3 separate regions of the Homo sapiens genome follow, and regions 1 and 3 are each linked to region 2. The links come from fine-mapping of genetic effects on gene expression. A gene starts in region 2. Each other region holds a variant in brackets. All regions are shown on one strand. Distances are from middle to middle. Region 1 overlaps B3GAT2 (beta-1,3-glucuronyltransferase 2). Region 2 holds the start of B3GAT2 (beta-1,3-glucuronyltransferase 2). Region 3 overlaps SMAP1 (small ArfGAP 1).

Region 1 (6,521 bases), 92 kb before region 2:
TGCTTTCGGTTCCAGTTCTTCGACTGTTGTTATCTGTTTGAGAAAGTCAGATTCTTGCATCCCTGGCTGGGATCCACGACGCTTAAATACAGCTTTTGGATTGGACAAAATGACTTGAAGACTTACAGCAAATCCTTTGTGAAAAATAAAAAAAAAAAAGAGACTTTAAAATCCTGGTGTACTTCTCTTTTTTTCTGTATAATTTTGGTCACATCAAAACAGTTTTTAAAATACCTACTGTGTGTCAGGTCTTGGTTTACAAAGTTGAATAGGAACATTACCTGTATTACAGTCTCAAAGGAAAATCAGTCATTACAATATTTTACATTCCGTGTAAAATAAAGGCGTGCACAGGAGCATCTACGCAAAATAGGAAGTTTAGTCTGTTGATAATAAAGGGTGAATTTTATAAGCTGCTGTTTCACAGTGATCATCAACCCCCCACATTTGCCACTAGGAATAACTAAGAAATAAATGCAGCTGAAAAACATACATGCTTACCTAACTACATGTGGGGTATGAGACCACATGCCCAGCTCTCCTGCCTGCCCTGTAATATTAATTATGTATGCTTCCTTAAATCCAGCACTGCTTGGATTCATTTTGCATTTAGAAGAGGGAGCAACAGAAGTAAAGCCGATTAGCTGGAAAATGAATCATACCTAATTTTTAATCATCTGGTTTATATTTCTAATTTGGTTCAATCTAAAAAGGGTATGTGGGGCAGAAATCAGTGCAGGAGATATCAGGCCATCATCTGATAAAGTTTTTTTTTGGTATTTCATTTACCAAAAATAAGTGTAAATTTTCTTCAATGGTTTGGTCATACGAAAAATCATTACTGGCTGGGCACAGTGTCTCACATCTGTAATCTCAGCACTTTGGGAGGCCAAGGCAGAAGGATCTCTTGAGCCCAGGAGTTCAAGACCAGCCTGGGCAGCATAATGAGACCCTGTCTCTACAAAAAATACAAAAATTAGCTGGGTGTTGTGGCACGTGGTGCGTGCCTGTAGTCCCAGCTACTTAGGAGGCTGAGGTGGGAGGATTGCCTGAGCCTATGAGGTTGTGGCTGCTGTGAGCTATGACTGTGCCACTGCAACTCCAGCCTGGGCAACAGAATGAGGCCCTGTCTCAAAGAAAAAAGAATCATTCGTATTTAATCTGTAGTTTAACAAACTGTTTAAAGCTCAGCCATTGAAGCACTCTACAATTGTTTTTGCCATCTCAGCAAGTAATAATTGTTTTGAAGGTCTGAAGCCCTGGATCTCTTTTTCCTTAGTGACTAAGGTGATACTGTCAAGTCAGGCACCCTCCCAGAGTTGAAGCTCCGGGCACCAACCCACAAAACATTTCTCAGCAACTTTTGCCCTTCTCTACATTAAATGAGTTGATTTATGATTCAGTTTGCAAAGTAATACTAAATGATACCAGGTGGTAATGGAGGAGCTGTGAAAACACCACAACCACCATCCTCTCCAGATGCCAGACTGGGCCAGTCTCCTGTTCCAGACCCTGCTGCCTTTTGGAGAAAAGTTAACACTAAGCCACTTACAAACATAACGTGGTACAGCAGGTGCTGAGTGAAGCAGAACAAAGAATCATAAAGCATTAGCTGTAGGACTAGCCCCAGTATCGATACCTCCACCAACCCTAAAGGGAGGGAGGTGGCACATTTTAGCAGAGAATACTGGATTTGGAATTAGAAGCCTTTTGTTTTTGCCTAGGTCCCTGCCCCTGGGACACTGGCCAACTCATTTAACCTTTCTTGATTTTCTAACTTCCCCATTTCTTTATTTGCGAGAGAAGTGTAACACTTCAACTCAATGTTTGATGAAAAATTGAGGTATGGAAAGACTCCACTGACTGCAAAGCACTGTTCAAAAGATACTACAATATATAAATAAAAATACTATTGTCAGTGTGATCATGAGGGGCAGGTGATGCCAGCCACCATTTATGGCTGAAAGAATACTGGTTGACAGATGTAAAAGGTTTGGGAAAGTTCCAGGTAGCAAAGCCAGGACACCTACATGTGATAGCAACTCTGGTAACAAGTCCACAGCCTTCCTTAGACACAACTAGGACAACCACCAGACACCTCAACAAAAGCCAGAGGTTCAAATTGATAACGTAGTGTCCTTTCCAACAGGTCAGATCAGATTTTAGTGTTAAAAGATTTCTTGCTTTTTCCCACATGCTTATAAATAAGCTTTATCCTTTTTTTTTTTTTTTTTTTTTTAAATTCAGATGAGAGCCTACCCTTCTCAGTCATACTGAAACTCCTGATACATTCTTCACATGGCTTCAGGATACTGGTTGTATTTCCCCATTCTCTCAAAAACATGGGATCCAAATTGTGCAGAGGTGATTTCTGGAAATGATATGGAGCCACCTGGATCTGATTTCCTTCATTTTCCCCTAAGACTTTAACACATTAACCATCACGACCACTGAAGGATTCAGATTCTTTTGTTGCTTTCCTTAGCACAGGAATATCCTTCCAGCGCTTCACACAGAATGACATGGCAAAATCTACAATTTATGTAAAGTTAACAGCCAGTTGTGAAGCTATACATCATTTTGCAGCAAGGTCTCCTTTCCTGGTGTCACTAGAGAATGGTGCGCACCTGAAAGGCCAGCACCCTGGAGACATGTTAGCCTGTGGCTCTCCACAGTACCCAAGTGTTTTTCTATTCTCTAATACAAAGGGGTGGAGGAGCACAATTCAGATGCCCCACAATCAGCTAACGCAATTTCCTTTGCTCAGTGATCTCTTGAAAGGAAGCAGGTCACAGCTGGCAGGAGAGACTGCATGTTAACTAGGTCAACCCCTGGGTTACTTTTGGGGAATCTGACCCGCTGTGAAGCTGGGGGCAGAGTTAAAGAGTTCTCCCCTCTGAAATCACAGTAAAGGGAATCCTAAACCATTGATTTCCAACCTAAGATGTTTTCTTGGGTAATTCCAAGTATTTATACTTCAAGTATTATATCTTTCCTTTTTTAGTGAGATTCGTTATCTTTAAAGATGTTGGTTACTTTGGAGATGCTTACGAAAGTCATGGGAGTAGGATTTTCTGCCCTGGTCAGCTGAGTAAAAAAAAAAATGCAAATAAAAATGATTGTTCACTGAGAAGGCAGGATTTCCTGACTTCTTCAGCAGAGCTAGGTGGGGAGGATACACAGTCACCCTCTGTATCTGCAGATGCATCTGCAGATCCAACTAACCTCAGATTAAAAATATCTGAAA[A/G]TAAAACAAAAAAATGACAATACAACAAGAAATAATAGGGCTTTTTTGTTTTTGGACAGAGTTTCACTCTTGTTGCCCAGGCTGGAGTGCAGTGGCACAATCTCGGCTCACTGCAACCTCTGCCTCCTGGGTTCAAGTGATTCTCCTGCCTCAGCCTCCCGAGTAGCTGGGACTACAGACGTGGGCCTGGCTAATTTTGTATTTTTAGCAGAGACGGGGTTTCACTATGTCGGCCAGGCTGGTCTTGAACTCCTGACTTCAAGTTATCTGCCCCCCTCGGCCTCCTAAAGTGCTGGGATTACAGGCGTGAGCTACAGCAGCCAGTCAAAATAATACAAGTTTTAAAGCTATATAGTATAACAACAATTTGCATGGCATTTGCATTGTATTAGGTAAGTAATCTAGAGATGATTTAAAGTATACAGGAGGATCTGCCTAGGTTATATGTAAACACTATATCAGGGACTTGAGCGTCCATGGATTTTGGTATGAGTAGCAGTCCTGAAACCAATTCCCTATGGATACTCAGGAATAACTATTCCCTCTCAGGCAGAGGGATAGGGCCTACCTCCATATATGATTACTGATTACTGAGTAGAAAATTTGTAAGACTTTAAAAGTCCAACAAGCTATTTACATTTCTGGACAAAATTGCAATAGGGACTGGTTTTTCCTCACTTGTTTTAAATAACAAAAAGGCAGACAAAATGATTGAAAAAAGTTTCCAGACATTGGAAAAGAGGCACATGAGACAGAGATCTCTGAGAAAAGAGAAATGTGACCCCTACAACTGCCCCAGCTTCCTGCCTGAAGTATGTTTTCAGGCTACACCACAGGGAGGGGAACCCGGAAAGCTCTGCAGTCCCCTTGAATTGAGGAAACAACTGAGAATTTGAGGAGGCCAAGACAACTAGGATATGCAGGGTGGAGTACTAGAGAAGGAAGAACTCTGCTGATCTGTAGACAGCTCTCCTCAACTCTTCAACTGAGTATGAAGAGCAAATGCTCACACAACTACCTCAGGCCAGGTACAGAACCACTGGCAAGGAGCAGGTGAATCAATTACTGGAGGGGACTAGTTCCCATTCTCAGTAGCCAGAGTGGAGCTACCTAGTAACAGCTGGAGCACCTGGAGGAGAACTTGGAAGGTTATCGTGCCTGTTGTAAGGTCAAATTGATTAGCCCTAAACTAGAGGCTGAGATGGTTTTGCCTAACAAACTTCAAAAGCAAGCCTGGAAAGGATCAAAATGTTTCCAAGTTAACTCAGTTGTGTCCCAGTACAAAGCTCAAGAATACATATGTATTTATAATATAGTATAACATTACATATATATGTGTTTTTATGTATGGTTGTGTGTATACATATATGTCTCTCTCATCCAGTATCTAGCAACATAAAATTCAAAATGCCTGATGCCCAAGACACCTCAGTGATGAAAAATACAATGTCTGAGATGAAAAATACATTGGATGGGATTAGCAGCAGAGGAGACACTGCAGAATAAAAGTTGAGTAAACTCGAACACATAATGATAGAAACTACCAAAATGAAACAGAAAAGGCAAGACCAACACACACACACCGTACAGAGTCACAGGAACAGAGTCAAAGGTGAATGAATGAGGGAGACAGGGAAAAAAATTTGAAGAAATGACGACTGAAAAATTTACAAACTTGAAAACTCAGGAAAGATATGTAAGACTTAAATAACATTTTCAACTACACCTAAATGACATTTATAGAACACTCCACCCAACAACAGCAGAATACAATCTTTTAAAGTACACATGGAACATTATCACGATAGTTAGACCATAGTCTGGGCCATAAATCTGTCTCAATACATTTAAAATAATTTAAATTGTACAAAATATGTTTTCTGACTACAGTGGAATTAAAATAGATATCAGTAAATACAAAGATACCTGGAAAATATCCCAAATATTTGGAAACTAAACAATATAATTCTAAGCAAAATACAAACCAAAGAAGAAATCAAAAGGGAAATGATAAAGTGGTTAACTGAATGAAAATGAAAACAAGACATATCAAAATGTGTAGGATACATCTAAAGGAGTGTTTAGATGGGAAACTAGTTTTTAGAAAACATTAAGCACTTACTGGATAAGAAAGGTCTGAATTCAATAACCTAAGCTCCTACCTTTATAAATTAGAAAAAGAAAGCAAATGAAGCCCAAAGTAAATGGAGAAAACGACTATACTAATAGATATGAGAGCAGAAACGACTAAAGTAGAAATAGAAAACAATTGAGAAGATAAGTGAAATAAAAACCTAGTCATTTAGGAAAAAAAAGTTAATAAAATTGATAAACTCTACCCATGCTTATCAGGAAAAAGAGAAGATATAAATTACCAGCCTCAGAAATGAAAGAGATAGGTTCTACAAACCTTAAAATGATAATATGGGGCTATTATAAGCAACTTTTTATGATAGTAAATTTGACAACTTAGATCAAAATAGAAAAAGTCCTTGAAAGACAAGCTACAAGGCTCACTCATGAAGAAATAGATAATGTGAAATAGCCCTGTATCAAATAAATTAAGTTTATAATTAAAATCTTCCACACACATACACACAACCCTCCAGGACCAGAGAGCTTCACTGGTAAATTCTACCAAGCATTTAAGGAAGAAATGACAGCAATTCTACATGAATTTTTCTAGAAAATAGAAAAGGAGGAAATCTTTCTCAAGTTATCCTGTAAGACCAGCATTGCCCTGATACCAAAACCAGACAAAAACATTACAAGAAAACTACAGACTAATAATCCTCATGATCACAGAAAAATTCTCAAAATTTTAGCAAATCAAATTCAACAATAAAAAGACAATAAATCATGACCACTTGAGGATTATCTCCAGATTGCAATGTTGGTTTAAAATTTCAAAATCAATCAATGTAATTCACCATATTAGCAGACTAAAAAAAAAAATCTGACTATCACAATAGCTGGAGAAAATGCTTTGACAAAATCTAACATCTAGTCATAATGAAAAGAAGAAATAAAAGCCTCTCAGCAAACTAAGACTAGAAGTGAACTTTCTCAACTTAATAAGGACATCTACAAAAATACCTAATGCCAACATTATACTTAATTGGTGAAAGACTGAGTGTTAAATCCCTGAAGATTGGAATGAGGCAAGGATGGCTGCTCTTGACTTTTATTCAACAAAGTCCTGGAGATCCTGGCCATTTAAATAAGGCTCCCACCCCCACAAAAAAGGCAGAAATATTGGAAAGGAAGAAGTACA
Region 2 (6,521 bases):
AGAAAGGTACTAGTCATAAAATTACTGTCTGGGAGTGACCTCCAGGAGATAGAAAACTTAAATTCTAAGTATGTCATGCCTATTATGCTTAAAATGACAACAGAAACAATAAACCTGTTGTATTTTTTGTATATGTGGCACCTCACCATTAAAAAATGTTGCATATGCTCTTATTTTATTTTATTGCATTACTTCCAATTGTACAAAAGTTTAGTGTCTTGAAAGTTTTGCGTTTTTCCTTTATAATGTCCTCTCTGACAACACTATTTTTTTCTCCTTACCCTCTCCTCATTTTATATTTTCCCCCATATGGACTAATGAAAAACCTACTGGAATTTTCTCCTGATGCTTAATATCCCCCACCAACAAACCCTCCTTTCAGTTTGGGAAGCATCAAAGGAAGGCTGTGTCCTGAATCATTTCACTGCCTGCGTGTGCCAATTCTTCTAACACCTCACACCAAGAGGCTAGAAGCTCGGAATAAACTAAATCATTCCTCCTTCACAATCTAGCCTCCTACAGTGTTCATTAACAGTAATGTGCACTATTTTACTTCAACAAGACCACATATTGTCACAGACGAGGCAACTTCGAAGTTGTAGAAGAAAATAAAAAGACCTTGCGGTTTAAAAATTGTGGTGCATTGAAATGTACAGTCTTTGCTTCAGATGCAAGCCACTTTTTTCTTTTGGAGGGGGGAGCACTGATGCAGGATTAAAAGCCCAGTTAAAAACGTCAGATGGTATCTCTAATCTTGGGTTGAGTAAGGACCATACTATACAATGCCAAGCTTATTTATTCATTTGGAGAAACGTGGAAAGAAAGCCCTCTACAGTGAAAGGATGGAAAAGAAAAGATGAAGGACAATTACTGTGCCTTTTATTCATGAAAGAGAGGATGAATAGAAATGAAGGCGGCAATTACCTTTAAGAAAATTTTTTTAAAGCCACACAGAAAAATTAAACTGGAAGAGTACAGAATAGCTCTGCCCTGGGGTTAAGAAAGCAACCCAGAGATGAGGATGAAAGTGTGGGAAGCAGTTAGGGTATCTGATGACCAGACACACAGATTATTTTAGCAGTTCAGTGTCCAACTCACACATAGTATTTTCCCAATGTCCAGTTTACTTGGGAGAAGGGGAATTGAGGGGGAGTCTCTGAAGCAGGACGTCAAGAAATTTCAGGTGGAGGAAGGCAACAGTCTCACAGGGCGTCAAATCAATCAAGAAGATTTTCTTTGGCTGTAATTGCGTAGACAGAAGAAAACTGAGAAAACCCATGCCACTCAGTCTCATTTGCAGGCTACACACACACACACCGCAAGATACCAGCCTCAAGGAAGAACACCTGTTCTAACCCTGTGCCTGCCGGGGGCGGCGGGGGGGGGCGGTGCGCGCGTGGCCATCCCAGGGAACTCATGGGCCATCTCAACAGCAGGGAGCCCGGATGCACTCAGGACCTGGCTGCACCAGAAAGACGCAAAAGGCCCCGCCAAATGTGTCCTGGCTAACTCGCCAAAAAGAGGCCTTAGAGAAAGGTTGTGAAAAGGGATCAGGCAGCCCAGATGTTTACCTTGGGCTGCAAAAAAGACGTAACCACAGGGCAGAACAGTTTATTTTCCAGAAAGGGTTTTCTTGCAAAAAAAAAAAAAAAGTAATCTTGAGGGTCAGAAAAGACTTTTGTGAGGTGTGGGAAAGAGAGGAAGGACCTCCATAGAAGTCAGTGTTTCTTCTAACAACCATTTCCGTGCCAGTGGGCCGCAATAGTCAAATTTCTCTCTAGGCTATCTCCACCTTTCTCCCTATATGGTCCTAGACTGAGAATCACACCTGTAGGCACTGAAAAGCCTCGAGTAACACCTAGCCTACCCGTCCCCACCACCCCCACCCCTCCACCGCCACCCGCTACGGTGCAGGTCCCTCCCTGATCTCCTATCGCAGCCAGCGCCTGCAGGTCTAAGCTCCATCCTCAGGTCGTCAGGAGCCTGGCCCCTGGAAATCATTCCCGCGCCTCACACCTGTGCTATTCTCTTGACACAATCTCCACACAGAAAAGCCCCAGGGCAGACTCCCGCCCCTTAAGCCACAGTGATCCTCTCACACACAGCCCCTCCACCCCCACGGCCAGCGGAGGCTGCGGAGTGCCAGCAAGGAGCGGCTCCACTCGGTGCCCCGAATGCGCGCACGGAGAACTGAGAACTCAAAAGTGCACCCGGAGTGCAAGGGGCGTGTGACTGCAGCCCGGCCGGCCCGGAGGCCCACTCCCGCCCTCGCCCACCCAGCGGGGCAGGCTGGCCTTTACCTCCTGGAAGAGCTCCAGACTATAGGTGTTGTCGTCGTCAGCGAAGAAGAGCACGCCGGGCTGCGCGCGCTGGTGCTGGTGCCTCTGGCGCAGCCAGGCGAGGCCCGCGTTGCGCTGCTCAGTGGCGCGCGGCAGCCCGGGCCGCTTGTAGCGCCGCGGCGTGGGCACGTGCAGGTGAGTGCTGGGCAGCCCGGCCCGCGCCAGGAAGCGGCTCACCAGCTCGCTGCGCGCCGCCGCGTCCTCCACCAGGATCCAGTGCAGCTGCGCCACCTGGCGGAACGTGTTGGCCAGGCGGGTCAGCTCCGCTTTCTGCACCGGGCGGCTGTAGGTGGGCGTGATGGCATAGATGGTGGGCAGCTGCGGCTCCGGCTGTGGCTGCGGCCGAGACTGGTTGCGCTTTTGGGTCCCGTGAGCCGGGCCGCCCCTGCGGAGCGGGAGTCGGGCGCCCCCGCGGCCCACCGCGTAGGGAGAGAAGTAGGGGCGCGGGGTGAGCGGGGGCACTGGCCTGCGCGTGTCCACGTCGAGCATGATGATGACAATTAGGATCCAGGGCAGGAGGATAAAGAAGCGGGTGAAAAGCGCGGACTTCATGGTGCACGCTCCCTGGCCTCTCGGACACCCCAGAGAGGGGCGAGCCGAGGGACCCCAGTGCGCAGCTTGGACAGCGGCGGCGCCAGCACTTAGGGAGTGGTGATGGGTGCGCTGTCCATGGGGCCGAGGGCGCTGCAGAGACCTGGAGCCGCGGGGCTCACTACCTGGGCGTGGAGGAGCGGCAGGTTCGCGCAAGCTAGAGCGACAAGGGGTGCAGGCGGGCGGGCAGGGGCTGCCCCCGACTCCAGGTGAGCTGGCGGGAAGCGGGACTCGGTCCAGCCGCGCGCCGCCGGTCCCGGAGTTGTGCCGAGTGCGGGAAAGGCGCTGATCCCCACCGCGCTCTTTCTGAAGAGTGGAAGCCGAGAAGCGGCACCCGGTGCGCCTCGCCGCTCCAGTCCGGCGGTGCTGCGGGCACAAGGGCTCCAGCCGCGGGCCCCCAGGACGCTCTCTGGGACGCCTTCGAGGGCGGGCGGCGGCGCTGGGGGCTTTCCTTCCTCACATTCCCGCCGGGGTGGCGAGGAGCGGGTGGAGACGCTGGGGGTTGTGTCCCGGCTGTGTTCGCGCGCCGCAGCGGAAGCCTGCTCTCAGTCCCTTGCTCTTGTCTTCTCAGAACCTCTCCGGATCCAGCAGCAAGATCCCAAAGCAAGGAAAGAAAGAAAAAGCGAGGGGGCGGGGGCGCTGCAGAATCCAGCGTCCTCCCAAGTCCTCCTGTGGGAAGACAGCAGCGCTGCTACTGGTGGAGAGGGGCTGCGAGAGGGAGGCGCGGAGGGACCCCTTGGCTCTCCGCCGGGTCTGGCGCTAACGGCCCCGCGAGCAAGCTCGGGAGGCGGCCGCTGCACCGCGGGTGGAGGAGCGGGAGGAGCGTCCCCGCGGGGCTGCACGACCTCCTGGAGGGGGTGATGCTCGTTCACCTCTCTTCAGCTTTGTGAAATACCGCAAGGTCTTTGGAGATGAGCCAGGAAAATCCATTCACGTGCGGAAATTTGCCGGGCTACGCGCGTTGCTGCTGATGCCTAGGGTTCGGAGTGAAAGGAGGGGAGAAAGCGAAGGGATTCCTCCTCCTGCTCCCAGCTGCTGCGTTGATGTGCTGGGGTGTATCGAACAGCGGCAACAAAAAGCGCTTTCACTGCAAGGCAGACATCAATAGGAGCCCACGGAGATGGAGGGGTGCTGCACATAGGTGTTTGGCATGTGAGACAGTCCATAAGAAAGAATCAATTCGGAGGGCTGCTGCCTGACTGCAGTTTGATCATGGCGGGTGGGGGCGGGTGGAATTCCTAAAACTCCAGCCGAGCATGTTTAACTTATTTTTCTTCAGTAATTTGGAGTCACGGTCCCTCCCAGTTCTTCGCTGTCACCGGAATTACTCCGTTTGGCTCTCCCAAGGCTCCTGTCAAGAAGGCCTAAGAAGTAGAATGGCCTTCATTTTCAGGATAAGGAAGCTGAGGTTCAGGGTTTAAAATGATTTCTCTGAGGTCAGTGGCAAGTGGCATATGGAAATAGAACGTGGGTCTCCTGCGTGTGTCTATAGCTAGTGGCGTCCTCACTGCATGGCCTGCAGAAATCCCACCCAACACAGCCGGGCCGGTTTGGCCTTCCTACATATAAAGATGGTGCGATTGAAATCAAACAGAGTGTACCATGACGAATAGAACCATGATAGGGTCTGGAAGACCCCAAGTAAACAGTTGGCACTTAGTTTAGACACTTTTTGCTGTCTAGCTGGCCTACTAGCTGAGTGCCTGACCTTCTGTAACTTACCAGGAAGAAGGGCTGTGCTTCCCAGGCAGGTCCCAGGGAAGTGCTTGCAAAGCAGAAGGAAAGCTCCAGACTGTTCTGCCCTAGCCTATGATAAATAATTTCTGAGCCCATCTTGTCTGGGTTGTCTGCCTTTCTCGGGCTTGTTCACAAATAAATCTCTCTCCGACTGTGCGTTCTGGTGCAACTGAGAGCTCTGGGGCGAATGGCTCTCCAGCTTTTCTGACAGCTCCTCTTCTCCCAGTCCTACCCCTGAACCCCCCACCTGTTAAAAGGCATTGGCTCATCTGTGAATTTCCCTAACTTCCTCTTCAGATTCTGAAACGTGAGAGTGAAATTTCAGACTAACACCCAGCCACCCCAACAACTCCCTAGAGCTAGCCTTCTGTCCCAACTTCCCTGTGCCATCCACAACTCATACATTAAACTCTGCAGATTAGTGCATCCTAAACATAGAAAACAACGAAGCCATTAGACCTCTTCCCATTCTCTCGAATAGCCTAATGTGCCTCTGAATATAACACAACCTTGGAAATGTATTCTGCACCAGCATCATGCCAGGATGGGGAAGAGGAAAGAAGTCAAGGCCTCCCTTTAAGAAAAGGTTTTTCTTAGGAAGCAGTGCACCCCTCTCCCCTAAGTTACTGAAGTCTGGTTCATCCTGTTGGAAATTTTAAATTTGGTTAAAATGCCTTGTGTTTGCTGGAATAAAATTCATGTTGTTACTGAATTGTACTAAAAACATCACTAACCTTTGTTAGTGGGGAACTTTTGGTTGGTCCAACTATGCCATAAAACCTATTTGCTATTACATCCTCTCCAGGAACCAGGGCTATTCAGAGATGAAACACTGTGTGTGTGTGTGTGTGTGTGTGTGTGTGTGTGTGTCTGTGTGTGTGAGAGAGAGAGAGAGAGAGAAAGACAGACAGACAGGGTCTCTCTTCAATGCCAAGGCTGGGGTGCAGTGACTTGAACACAGCTCACTTCAGTCTCGATGTCCTGGGCTCAAGCAATCCTCCTGCCTCAGCTTTTTGAGTAGCAGGAACTACAGATATAAGCTGCTACACCCTGCTAATTTTTTCATTTTAGTTTTTGTAGACTGGGGTCTCCTATTACCCAAGATGGTCTTGAACTCCTGGGCTCAAGCAGTCCTTATGCCTTGGCCTCCCAAAGTGCTGGGATTACAGATGTAAGCCATTGTGCCTAGCCCAAAGCACTTTCAAAATCAATTGAATTTGCAGTTTGAGACTTTAGCTCATGCCCAGAATTCATGGGTGTCATAAAACACAACACTTAATTAGCACATCACAGACTGTCACTTCATTTTTTTCTATTACCCTTAGCATTTGTACCCAGGTTTATTTCATTCAGTCATCTGTTGGGGAGCTTCATGGTTCTTGGAGTCAGGCAGACCTGGGTTTGAGTCCCCTCTGGGATACTTTCTACTGTGCAACTTTAGAAAATCAGTGAACCTCCCAAGGCCTGTTTCCTCATCTGGAAAATGGGGTTAATAATACATACTCCATGGGAATCTTGCAAGGATTAAATGGTGTATGTTGGGTAGTTTGAAGAAGAGCCATTATTACACAGGCAGTCAATAAATGATATTTCAATACAGATAACCCTTCCTCAAAAGAACACCTTAACACAAGAGATCTTGATGGATCATCGTTATCAAATGAATATAAAATGAAATCTAAACAGGACTGATAATGCTTCTAAATAGTACCTCTGCTTGTAATGAAGATAATTCCTAGAGTGTATGTTAGAGTCTTCCCAAGTTGGTCTAGGGAGTGGAAGAAAGAAGAAATAAATTTACCCCAAATGCAAGGTATAGCTTGTCATGCAATAAGGATGACATGATTCCAAGTG
Region 3 (6,521 bases), 260 kb before region 2:
TTTGAATCAGCCTTCTACCCCATCTCTCTCTACCTCCTTGTTAGGTTAATGACTATTAGATTTGCCATTTTAGGACTGTTTTCTAGATTTCGTAGGCATGCTTCATTCTTTTTTATCATTTTATTCTTTTGTCTCTTCTGACTGTATTTTGAAATAGCCTGCTTCAAGCTTACGAATTATTTCTTCTGCTTGATCAATTCTGCTGTTGAGAGACTCTGACGCATTCTTCAGTATGTCAGTTGAATTTTTCAGGTTCAGAATTTCTGCTTGATTTTTAGTTATTTCAATCTCTTGTTAAATTTATCCGATAGAATTCTGAATTCCTTTTCAGTGTTATCTTGAATTTTGTTGAGCTTCGTCAAAACAGCTGTTTAGAATTCTCTGCCTGAAAGGTCACATATCTCTGTCACTCTGGGATTGATCATTTGTGCCTTATTTAGTTCATTTGGGGAGGTCATGTTTTCTTGGATGGTCTTGATGCTTGTGGATGTTTGTTGATGTCTGGGCATTGAAGAGTTAGGTATTTATTGTGGTCTTTTCTGTCTAGGCTTGTTTGTCCTCATCCTTCTTGGGAAGGCTGTCCAAGTATGCAAAGGAATTGAGTGTCCTGATCTAAGTCTTTGCTTATTGCAGCTGCATCTGCATTAGTGGGGACCCAGACCCAGTAACACTGACTCTTGCAGACCGGTAGAGGTACTGCTTTGGTGGTCTTAGGTGAGATCTGAGAGAATTCCCTGGATTACCAGGCAGAGACTCTTGTTTTCTTCCCTTACTTTCCTGCAAACAAATGGAGTCTCTCTCTCTGTGCAGAGCTTCCTGCGGCTGAGGGAGGGATGAAACAAGTACCCATGTGACCACCACCACTGGGACTGCGCTGGATTAGACCTGAAACCAGCATAGCACTGAGTCTTACCCGGGACCTGTGGCGACCACTGCCTGGCTACCACTGATGTTCTCTCAAGGCCCAAGAGCTCTTCAGTCAGCAGGTAGTGAATCCGGCCTGGCTTGTATCCTCCCTTCAGGACAGCGAGCTCTCCACTGGCCCAAGGTGGGTCCAGAAATGCCTGAGAACCAGGGCTTGGAGTCAGGAAGCTTAGGATTCCACTTAATGCACTGTTCTGCTGTGGCTGAGTTGGCATCCAAGCTGCAAGACAAAGTTCTTAACATTCTTCCCTCTCCTTTCTTCAAGTGGTAGTCTTTCCTCATGACCACCACTGCCCAAGGCCTGTGGTGAGTACTGCCTCGCCACTGCTGATGTTAACGTAAGGTCCGAGGGCTCTTCAGTGAGTTTGTAGTAAATGTTGCCAGGCCTGGGTCTCTCCCTTCAAGGCAGTGGGCTCCTCTTTGGCCCAGGGTGGGTCCAGAAATGCCATCCAGGAGCCAAGGCCTGGAATCTGGGATCCTAGGAGCCTGCTTGGTGCTCCACACCACTGTGACTTAGCTGGCAACCAAACTGTAAGACAAAGTCCCCGTTATTCTTCCCTTTCCTTTCCTCAAGCAGAAGGTGATATGGTTTGGGTATTTGTCACACCCAAATCTCATGTTGAGATGTTGTATTCCCCAGTGTTGGAGGTGGGGCCTGGTGGGAGGTTTGTGGGTCACAGGAATGGATTCCTCGTACCTTCGTGCTGTTCTTGAGATAGTGAGTGAGTTCTCATGAGATATGATTATTTAAAAGTGTGTGGCACCTCCCTCTGCCCCTTGCTCCTTCTCTCGCCATATGGCCTGCAAGCACCTGCTTCACCTTCTGTCGTGAGTAAAAGCTCCCTGAGGCTTCCGCAGAAGCCAAGCACATGCTGGTGCCATAATTGTACAGCCAGCAGAACAGTGAACCAATTAAACCTCTTTTCTCTTTTCAGACAGTCTCACTGTCACCCAGGCTGAAGTGCAGTGGCATGATCTCGGTTCACTGCAACCTCCATTTCCCAGGTTCAAGCGATTCTTGTGCCTCAGCCTCCAGAGTAGCTGCGATTACAGGATGTACCACCATGCCTGGCTAATTTTTGTGTTTTTAGTAGAGATGGAGTTTCACCATGTTGGCCAGACAGGTCTCAAACTCCTGGCCTCAAGTGATCCACCTGCCTTGGCCTCCCAAATTGCTGGGATTACAGGTGTGAGCCATGGCACCCAGCCTAAACTTCTTTTCTTTGTAAATTACCCAGCCTCAGATATTTATGTATAGTAACAGAAGAACGACCTAATACAGAAGGAGTCTCTCCCCATAGCCACCACAGCTGTGAACATGGTGGGTCATGCTTGAAGCCTGCATGGCACTGGGTCTTACCCAAGGCCTGCAGCAAGTTCTACTTGGCTACTAGCAAGTACCGGCAAGTATTACCTGCTGGTGTTTGTTCAAGACCCAAGGGCTCTTTAGTCAGCAGGTAATGGATCCTGCCAGAACTGTGTCCTTCCCTTCAAGGCAGTGGGTTCCCTTCTGGCCCAGGGTGTGTCTAGAATTGTCATCGGGGAGCTAGGTCCTGGAATGGGGGCCTCAGGACTCTGCCTGGTGCTCCATTCTCTTGTGGATGAACTGATATCCAAGTTGCAAGGCAAAGTCGTCTTTACCCTCCCCTCTTCTCTCCTCACACGGAAGGAAGGAGTCTCTCCTAGAGCTGTGAGCTGTGCCACCTGGGATTGGGGGAGTGGTGATGCAAGCACTCCCTTGGCTGCCCCAGCTGGTATCTCAGCTCACTGCTACCTCCACCTCCTAGGCTCAAGCAATCCTTCTACCTCAGCCTTCCTAGTAGCTGGGACTATAGGCACACACCACCATGCCTGGCTAATTTTTTTGTATTTTTGGTAGAGATGGGTTTTGCCATGTTTCCCAAGCTTGTCTCGAACTCCTGAGCTCAAGTGATCCACCCGGCTCTGGATCACAGGCATGAGCCACCATGCCTGGCCTGGTGTCTTACTAGGTCACGTGCACCCAAAGTCCACTGGCTGCAAGCCCAGCACAGCACCGGGACTTGCCTAGGGATTGCAGTCCTTGTGGCCAAGACTGCCTTTCAAGTTTATTTAGGACCCTAGAGTGCTTTAGCATGCACTGGTGGGACTAGCCAGAACTCAGGTTCTCGCTGCTGGGATGGATGATTTTCCTCTGGTTAAGGCTGGTATAAAAGTTCCTTCCTTGGGCCCCAGCTGATTTCTGCCCTGTGTCGCTTCCCACCATGATTGGCAGGACAGAGTTTCAATGCCAAGTCCCACAATCACTGCGTTCTCCCTTCCCCAAGCACACATTCTCTCTCTGTCATACAGCTGCTGTCCAGGGGGTTGAGGAGGGTAGTGTAGGCAATTCAAAATTGTCTTCCCTAACCTCTTCAGTGCCCCTTTTCTCAATATGATATTAAAACCAGATACTTTGGTTCTTATGAAGGTGATTTCTTGTGTGGATAATTGTTCAATTTGGTGTTCCTGCAGGGGAGATGATTATTGGTTCTGTTTGTTCATCTTGCTCTGCCTCCTACTTCATTGATTACTTTCCTGACCTTTATTTCACCTTTGTTTTCAAAAGATGTTTTAGTATGGCAAAAAGTTCTACGTTGACAGTATTTTACTTTCAGTACTTTTAAGATATTTTGCTGTTTGTGAGTTTCCGTTGATTTTGTGAGAAATCTGTCATCATTGTATGTTCCTTTGTCCGTAATGCCTTTTCCCCCAGCTTCTTTTAAGATTTTTTTCTGTTTATCCTTAGTTTTAATCAGTTTGATTATGAATTGTCTTTTGGTAGCTTTCTTCATGTTTCTTTTTTGGGGGGGGTTCCTTTGAGGTTCTTGGTTCTATGGGTTTATAGTTTTCAATGCATTTGGAAAAAATTCTGCAATTATTTTACTTTTTCTGTCACTCCACCTCTTAATTTGGGAATTCCAATTAAAAGTTAATTAGGTTGCTGAAACTGCTGCAGAGCTCAGTTACATGCTTTTTTTTTGGG[GA/G]GGGGGTCTGTTTATTTGTTTCATTTTAGATAGTTGCTATTGCTTTGTCTTCACATTCTTTTAGCAGTTTTTTCTTCTTGATTGTCTCATCTCTTAATTCTATCCAGTGTAGTTCTTATCCCAGTCATTATAGTTTGCATCTTATAGAAGTTTGATTTGGATCTTTTGTGTCCACACACACATGCACTCCATGCCTCATGCCTCTTCTTCACATGTTCAGCCTTTCTTTCTTCTTCTTCTTCTTCTTCTTTTTTTTTTTTTGAGGCAGAGTCTAGCTCTTTTACCCAGGCTGGAGTTGAGTGGTGTGATCTCAGCTCACTGCAACCTCCCAGGCTCAAGCCATTGTCCCACCTCAGCCTCCTGAGTAGCTGGGACTACAGGTGCGCACCACCACACCTGGTTAATTTTTGTGTTTGTTATAGAGACAGGGTCTTGGCCCTGTTGCCCAGGCTGGTCTCGAAATCCTGAGTGCAAGCAGTTCACCTGCTTTGGCCTTCCAAAGTGCTGGGATTACAGGCATGAGCCACTGTGCCTGTCCCCATGTTCAGTCTTTCTTATAGCTTCTTGAACATATAGAAGTCAATGATAATGGATTTTGTGCCTTGCGTGCTAATTCAAGTGTAATTTGAGGGTTTGTTTCGATTGATTGACTTTCCTCCTTTTTATAGATTATGTTTTCCTTTTTTCACGACTTTTTTTTTTGAGACAGAGTCTCGCTCTGTCACCCAGGCTGGAGTTCAGTGACACGATATGGCTGACTGCAACCTCTGCCTTCTGGGCTCAAGCGATTCTCCTGCTTCAGCCTCCCAAGTAGTTGGGATTACAGATGCCTGCCACCATGCTCAACTAATTTTTGTATTTTTAGTAGAGACAGGGTTTCACCATGTTGGCCAGGTTGGTCTTGAACTGATCTCAAGTGATCCGCCCACCTCGGCCTCCCAAAGTGGTGGGATTACAGGTGTGAGCCACCACGCTCAGCCAGCATTTTTCAATTGAATGCTAGATATGGGAATTGTATCGGTTCCTGATATTTTTGTATTTTTATAAATATTTTTGACCTTTTTTCTTGGATGCAGTTAAGTTACTTGGAAATAGCCTGACTTTTTCAGATCTTGCTTTTAAGCTTTACTAGGTGAGACTACAGGACTTTATAGAATTAATTTTTCCATTAGTGAGGCAAAAATTCTTCGAATACCATATCTGATGATCCATTAATAATAAAGTTTTCAAGTTAGTTTCCTCTAATTGTTTTGGGTGGGGTTTTCCCTACCTTCTGTAGTTTCCTCACACACGTGCACCAATCAGTACTCAATTAAATATTCAGTGATGACTTTTTGCATGTTTAAGGAGTTTTCTCTCTGTGCATCTCTCTCCTCTTGTATGCTGCCTTATGAAATTCAGCCACCTTAGTCTCTGTGAACTCCTAGATCCATTTCCTGGAGTTAGGGAGGCCACTGGGCTGCCCCTGGATTTATCTTCCCTTTGCCATGGCCTAGACACTTTCCCTGGACAGTAAGCTGAGTTCATTGTAAGGCTCTCACCTAGTTTGTTTTCCATCTCTTGATTTCCAGTTTCTTCAGCAATGTGTTATATATTTTGTTTGGATTTAAAGTTGCTTTAGTCGATTGGGCAAATTTCAGCGTCTGTTCCTTCATATTTTGGTTAGAAAACAACTCAATATGGTATTTTAGTAGAAAAAGCCATGAAAAGAAAATTACTTTTAAACCCCTTGTTTCTTTTTATTGAAACTTATATTTTTCCTAGGCTCATTGAAGAGAACAGTTACATTTAAGTTTATTTATAACATCTGTCCTCATGTAATTTTTAGAGCTATTAACAAATTACAGGAGAAAATGAAAACTATTGATGTTACTAGTACTCTTCTGTTCCAATGAAAGCTTGATACTGCTAAGTGAATGATACAAAACAAGTTAATCCATTACTCCTCCTGATTCTTTGAAGTCTGAATCAACTTATAGAGGAAATCTCCTGTGATGTGCTGTGCTCTTCATATATAAATTTGATTGTATTTTGCTGACTGCTAATATTACAGATTTTTTTTTCAAGTCAAATTAAAATGGTTATATTCTGCAGCAAGTTATTTAAATTGTTCATGTTTCAAATAACGTCTCCTTCCATTTCATAGAATGGTGAAAACATCTGTTTATGTAATTATAGTTTGCTGTTGTCAAACTGGTACAGAATTTGCCTTAGTCTTTGAGTTTATTCTTCCTGCTAAAATGCAAACAAGGCTAATATATTCCACAGTTGTATTTGTTAAAAATCTTTATATAGCAATTTTCATTGTTACTGATATCAAAGACATTAAGTGGGATTAGTCAACCGTATCCATTATTTGTGAGCTTGAAAGACAAGAAAGTAGTTGGACTCTGCATCTAATTCAGAGTGTCATTTTAGCCATCAGTTTCTGCTTCTCCTTATATCAAGACTTTTAAAAAGCAAAAGTTCTAATATATGGAGACATTTATTATTTTAGTTAATTTTTCCACTTCAAGCTGAAAGGGGCTATTAATTGAACAGGCAGGCATCCAAAGACAAATATCTAACTTGTTTTTCTCTGTCTTGCTTTCT

What was found. PIP is the estimated chance that this variant, and not a neighbour inherited with it, causes the effect.
Region 1: its variant is the best candidate, but not a certain one, in a credible set for the expression of B3GAT2 in lung (GTEx, PIP 0.61).
Region 3: its variant is the best candidate, but not a certain one, in a credible set for the expression of B3GAT2 in coronary artery (GTEx, PIP 0.68).

The regions. Positions count from the first base shown.
Region 1 is chr6:70,861,845-70,868,365 of GRCh38, forward strand. B3GAT2 (beta-1,3-glucuronyltransferase 2) reads right to left here. Exons shown (of 4, transcript NM_080742.3): 3 at 1-134. It overlaps SMAP1 (small ArfGAP 1), which reads left to right. Exons shown (of 11, transcript NM_001044305.3): 11 at 1-159. Among named protein-coding and RNA genes, the nearest start is that of B3GAT2, 92 kb to the right of the region's middle. The variant A/G (reference allele first, on the strand shown) is at 3,248.
Region 2 is chr6:70,953,539-70,960,059 of GRCh38, forward strand. B3GAT2 (beta-1,3-glucuronyltransferase 2) reads right to left here and starts at 3,522. Exons shown (of 4, transcript NM_080742.3): 1 at 2,301-3,522. The coding sequence starts at 2,891. LOC124901229 reads left to right here and starts at 2,890. Exons shown (of 2, transcript XM_047419611.1): 1 at 2,890-2,990; 2 at 3,094-5,379. The coding sequence starts at 2,890. The coding sequence ends at 3,820. RefSeq lists silencers at 2,114-2,253, 2,724-2,853 and an enhancer at 2,782-3,297.
Region 3 is chr6:70,698,465-70,704,985 of GRCh38, forward strand. All of the region lies in intron 1 of SMAP1 (small ArfGAP 1), which reads left to right. Among named protein-coding and RNA genes, the nearest start is that of SMAP1, 34 kb to the left of the region's middle. The variant GA/G (reference allele first, on the strand shown) is at 3,929.